Regions from separate parts of the Homo sapiens genome. Here region 1 is linked to region 2. The links come from fine-mapping of genetic effects on gene expression. A gene starts in region 2. The other region holds a variant in brackets. All regions are shown on one strand. Distances are from middle to middle. Region 1 overlaps PDIA4 (protein disulfide isomerase family A member 4). Region 2 holds the start of PDIA4 (protein disulfide isomerase family A member 4).

Region 1 (2,897 bases), 22 kb after region 2:
GGGAGCTGTTGACCTTGGTGGGTGGATTTTGCCTTTCTTTCCATTACTGCACCCCTGCACTTCATCCTCCTAGAGTGTGACACACTCAGCCCTAGAGGGGCAGTGGGAGTTCCCAGCCCAAGGGGAACCTGGGGCCAGTTCAGCCTTCTGAGTGCTTTAGAAGGGGCCCTGCACTTCGGTGAGTAGATCTCAGATTTGGAAGGATCTTAGATGTCGAGTTTGAAGCTTTGGTTTAACAGAGATTGGGCTGCAGAGAAGTGAGCTCTACCCCCCACCCCAGACCCCACAGCTCCTGGTGGGAAGCAGAGCTGAGATTGGGGTGAAGGGGCCTTTCCAGGTCCTACTGGCCCATAGTGTCAGGACCCTGGCTGTTTGGGCTGTGGGCTCTCATGGGACCTGGAGCAGGGGGTGTGACAGGACAGGAATCCCGGGGGCCTGCACCAGAACATGGCAGTACCTTGGAGAGAACCACCCTGAATCTTTCTGGTCCCCATGTCCTCTGTTTCCTTCCTCAGTTTTTAGTCCTGTCCCTCTTTCTCAAGGTCTGTGTGTCCATCCCATCTGTTTCTCTGCCAACTTGAAGCTCAGGGCAACTCTCCTCTTCCCTGGACTCATAGTGGCTGCTGCGACCCCTCCCCCCAGCTTCACTTCCTTCCATCCAGAGATAAGATCCTGGGCCCAAAGAGGGGTCCTGATGAGCTTGGGGGGCCATTGATCCCGAGAATCGGACACAGCTCTGTGTGTGAGTGCATATTCCAGGAAAGGGGTCTGTAGCTTTCAGTAGACGCTTCAAGATCTATGCAGTCTTGTCTGTTGGGCACATTGCTGCTGCTCCCAGTTCTTCTGGCGTTTCCCTGCTGAGTGAAGTGCACGCAGCGCCATGTCATGGTTAAAGACTCCACGGCCTCCTGCCACCTGGGAGATAGTTGGATTATCTGTGCCTTAGCATGGCCTCCCAGGCCCTCCTTACCCACCTTTTCAGCACATCCCACCCTCCAGTGCTGTCACGCCAGATCCTGTTTGTGCCTCGTGCCCTGCCTCAGTCTCTGCTGCCTCCCTGAGTGCCTTCTGCTCCCTTCTCACCAGCGGGGCCCTCTTGTCCTTCAGTGCCACACAAGGACCCCTCCCTGAGTATCCCATCCCCACGGAAACCCTTGGGCTCACAGGCCCACCCACCACTTGCTGGCTGCGCAGCCTTGGGCAGGTGGCTGACCTTGCTCTGCCCACCCCTGGAGGGCGATGTCTGTGAGGGACTCCAGTCGTTGTGAAGTGTGAGCCCTCAGGACCTCCTGCGTGAAGACCGCACAAGCTGAAGGTGG[A/G]AAGTTCCACACAGCCCAGCCCGTGATAACCCTTCCTGTCTGCCAAGAGCCAGGCCTACCTTGAGTGGTCTCTTTGTGGGGTTAGTGAGCCTACACCCCCAAGGAAAGGGCCAAGGTGTTTGCCTTTTCCCAAGAAGCCACCTACGGTTCACTGGAGGGAAAGGAGCCCCAAAAGACGGTAGGGAATGACTGGGCTGTGCTTGAGTGGGGTCGAGCCCTGGGGTGTTTTGCCTCCTAAGACTGATCCCCTTCAAAGTCGCCACTCCCCCAAAGTCCCTCAAACATTGTACTCAAGAACAATGGTGGGGAGATGGTGGGCCCCCTCACCTGTTCCCTCTTTGAAGCAGGGCTCCACCCAGGACTCGGCCATCAAGGACTTCGTGCTGAAGTACGCCCTGCCCCTGGTTGGCCACCGCAAGGTGTCAAACGATGCTAAGCGCTACACCAGGCGCCCCCTGGTGGTCGTCTACTACAGTGTGGACTTCAGCTTTGATTACAGAGCTGGTGAGGGACCCCCACCAAGACCTGCGGGGGTGGGGGGTGGGGGGACTCGTTCTTTCAGGCAAGGTGGAGTGTTGAGGGGAGGTGTGGCTGTATGTACATGGCTCACTCAGAAATCCCAGCCTGGGGCCCTTGCACGTTGGTGGCTCAGGTATATTTTTTAATTGATGGCTTCCCTTTTTAGCAGGATGGGAGCTTAGATTCAGGTGCAGAACCCTCTTAGAGTTGACGTAGCTGAGACTTGGAGGAGTTCAGAGGCTGCAGAGCTGGGACTAGACCAGCCCTGGCCCCAGGCAGGCGTGGCCGTGCCACCTGGGCACAGGTCTTAAGGGCCTGTTGGGCTTGCAGCTGTGGCCCCCGTGACAAGTGGGGCTTTTCCAGAAACATGTTTCCCTCCAATTGAGGTAAATCCAGGGTTTGAGCATTGTCAGAATATTAGCGACAGGACCTGAAGCCTGACCTCAGAGTCTGAGCTGGGACTTGCTCTGTGTGGCCGCCTGGCTTATGGCCCTTGGTCCCTTTCAGCAACTCAGTTTTGGCGGAGCAAAGTCCTAGAGGTGGCCAAGGACTTCCCTGAGTACACCTTTGCCATTGCGGACGAAGAGGACTATGCTGGGGAGGTGAAGGACCTGGGGCTCAGCGAGAGTGGGGAGGATGTCAATGCCGCCATCCTGGACGAGAGTGGGAAGAAGTTCGCCATGGAGCCAGAGGAGTTTGACTCTGACACCCTCCGCGAGTTTGTCACTGCTTTCAAAAAAGGTGAGCCCGTGGCTGGGGCTGGGGTCTCCCATCAGCTGCTGTGCTCCTCGTGCGGAATCCAGACAGGCCAGGGGCGTCTGGTGCTCTGGCCACGGGCACGACACCCCCTTAAGTCAGCCAGCAGTCCTCTCTCACCCCCGAGGGACTCTGACTTCTCGTCCAGAGAAATGTCGGGTGTGACCCCAAACTCCAAGGCACCAGAATAGCTTAGAAGAAGGATTTGCAAGTGTTACTATTTTCTTCTTGGCAGTTCTCCCAGTGTTTACTTTGAAAGCAAAAGCAAGATTCGGAGTCCATCTCAGGGCTTACCTAGCATCA
Region 2 (2,897 bases):
TCAGTGTGTACAGTTGCATAATGTTCTGCCCTACAAAATTGACCAGGAACCATCAGATTAATAGGCATTCAACAAAAAAATTAAGTATTTTTAATTGCTAAGGTCTGTGAGTTATCCCTTTTTTCTTCCTCACGTAATAATCTGCACACACGAGAAAATATTCCTGAACTTGAGTTTCTATTTTTTTTCTTTTCCCTATTTGCCTTCTCAAACTCCCAGGTGTTAAAAAAAAGTCTCAAACTTAATGCACATTACAGGCTTCTTTTCTGACATACAAAAATCGTCATCTTAACCTAGTTTTCTTCTCCAAAGTGGTCAAGAGGGAAAACCTCAAGCTTTTATTCAGATCTATGTAAACCACTAGATTGCCTATCTGGTATTTCCTTTTGCAGAAAATCACTAGAAAACTAAATAAGACGAGGCAAAGTTTAGACAAGAATCTGATGGCTTGTTTCTCCGAGATGCAACCTTGGAGAGAGGCTTCCCCAGATTCTAGTCTGGATTCACTTTACTGCATGCTCTTCCCCGCTCTCTAGCTCAATACTCCGGAGAGAAATGAAACTTTTATTTGCTCGAGCAGAAAAAGAAATTAAGAAGGCCACGAACATGCAGCGGACTTGGAGCCCCTTTCTAGCAACAAACAGGCTCGTGCTCCTCCGCCCGCGTTGGTCTCCAGCTTCCCAGAGCCCCGGCGGGTTGCGAGGACCGCCCTGCTCGCCACTGCTCCCCACCGCTCCGGTACCGACACGTGTTCTTACTGCCAAGTTCGGCCGCAGGATGCTGAGCCGAGCCCCGCCCCGCTCCACATTTCCCAGGCTCCGCCTCTCCTGCCCCGCCCCCGGCACCGATTGCCAATAGCGCCCCGAGGCGTAGCCAGGTCCCGCACTCCCCGTGCCCGGCCCGCCGCCTTTGTTCTCCCCCGCTCTCCCTCTTGGCCTGTGCGCTCCCGGCAAACCGAGTGGCAGCCGCTGATTGGTGGTTGTGGCGCAGCCAATCAGAAGGGGGCACCTCACGTTAGGGCTCGGAGTTTTAAACGCGCAGCCGAGGGCCGCGCGCAGGAGTAGGGAGGGCCTAGGGCGGCGGAGCCGACTCGTCGCGGCCGAGGCGCGCGCGGTCCGTGCCGGCGTCAGTCTGGGATTGGCCGGCCCGCGACTTCCTCCGCCCCCTGCCAATCGCCGGGGACGACTTCCGTGGGTTTTTCCGGCTCCCCCGCGTCGCTAAGGAGCGACGGGCTGTCGGCCAGACCCCGAGTTCTCGGTGCGCTCAGCGGCCGCCGACGCTAGGAGGCCGCGCTCCGCCCCCGCTACCATGAGGCCCCGGAAAGCCTTCCTGCTCCTGCTGCTCTTGGGGCTGGTGCAGCTGCTGGCCGTGGCGGGTGCCGAGGGCCCGGACGAGGGTGAGCGGCAAGCGCGCCGCGGGTCGGGCTGTGCTTGCGGGGGCTGCAGAGCTGTGCGGGGGCCTGGGCCCTGCGACCCCGGCGGGCGGGCTTCCGCGCGGTCAGCTCCAGAACTAGTGATGGGCGCCGAGCCCGGGGTAAACTTGGCGGAGTTGAAGGGGCGGGGGCGGTGGCTGTGGCAGTGGCAGGATCGATTTGGGGTTCCCGGGAGAGGAAGGTGGCCGGGGTCTCTTGGGCTCCGACGCCCTGGAAGACCCCTGTCACCCGAGGCTGGGAGAGGGCTGCAGAGCGCCTTTTTTGCAGCTGGGTCCTTCGCCTTAATTTACAGATTTTCGTCAGGTCCAGGCTAACTCCAGGCGAACGCGCCCAGGCAGTGGGAAGGGAGAGGGAGAGCCACTGGAGAGAAGGGGCGAGGGCGTGAAGAAACAAGTGCGAGTTCTTTGGAACAGCAAGCATTCCTTTTCAAAATGTGGTCTGTAGATTTGGAAATGATTAATCCATAGATTCTGGAGAAAGGGATGGCTTGGTTTGCACCTTTGAGAAACTAGAGATACCATTCCTTCTGCATTTAGCATTTACTGTGTGCCAGTCCCTGTACTGGGTTCTGGGAGGAAAAGATTGTGAGTGTGGTCCCTGCCCATGAAGCGCGTACTCCAGTAGGAATAGTAACAACTACTTCATGGTCCCTGCATTTTTCTTCGAAGTGAGCTAGCTGCAGACATAAGAACTCTGAAGATTAGGAAGTGCTAATTAAGGAAAAGTTGTTATTCCTAGAGAATAAGGCATCCAGGTACTGGTCTTTACCTTCTTCCTCTCTGCCCTTACTTTTAATCACTAGCTTTTTAACCTTCTGAGTTTGTTCTAATATAAATATACACTCTTTGATAATGTTAGTGTGTAGGGAAATCGTGAACTTTATACTCTTTCAAACAGATTGAGTAACTTCTGCGTGGGTCACTGATTCAAAAAGAGTCTTTGCCCAAATAGAAAAGGAAGTAAAAACCCACACTCGGCGAGAAAAACACCTGCCGAAAGGAATCCGATAGCGGGACTGCTTACAAATTGTGTCTTGAGACCTTTACCCAAATCATGTTTGTTTAAATAGTGTTTATTTAAATACAGATACCCAAAATACACTGAAGCAGAATGCAGGGGTGGGCCCCGGAATCTGCGTTTTAAGTCAGTTTTCCCTTGAGACATAGAATTAACTTCGGGAGGCACAGTGAAAGTTGAGGACCAGTGTGGGTGGAAGATGCTTTTTGGAACATAGCGGAAAAGCATATAGCACTGTCTTGGTTTTGATCCAGTGATTCTGTTTTTGGGGGGATTCTTGAGAGGCCTGGGAGAGTGGCTTTAGGAGCTGTTAGGACCAGCAAGTTTATCCTTCCGGTCAGAGGTCTTTAACACAGAAGAGTCCCTGGGAAGCAGTTGCTCCTAGGGTGAGCCTAGGAATCCCAGGGGTCATCATGGCCAAGGGCAGGCCTCCTGGGACTTCTAGCTC

What was found. PIP is the estimated chance that this variant, and not a neighbour inherited with it, causes the effect. A credible set is the group of variants that fine-mapping cannot tell apart.
Region 1: its variant is the best candidate, but not a certain one, in a credible set for the expression of PDIA4 in whole blood (TOPMed, PIP 0.86).

The regions. Positions count from the first base shown.
Region 1 is chr7:149,004,823-149,007,719 of GRCh38, reverse strand. It overlaps PDIA4 (protein disulfide isomerase family A member 4), which reads left to right. Exons shown (of 10, transcript NM_004911.5): 8 at 1,667-1,823; 9 at 2,346-2,579. Among named protein-coding and RNA genes, the nearest start is that of GHET1, 19 kb to the right of the region's middle. The variant A/G (reference allele first, on the strand shown) is at 1,320.
Region 2 is chr7:149,026,820-149,029,716 of GRCh38, reverse strand. It overlaps PDIA4 (protein disulfide isomerase family A member 4), which reads left to right and starts at 1,212. Exons shown (of 10, transcript NM_004911.5): 1 at 1,212-1,396. The coding sequence starts at 1,309. RefSeq lists silencers at 720-1,299, 1,370-1,439, 1,530-1,579 and enhancers at 904-1,497, 1,498-2,092.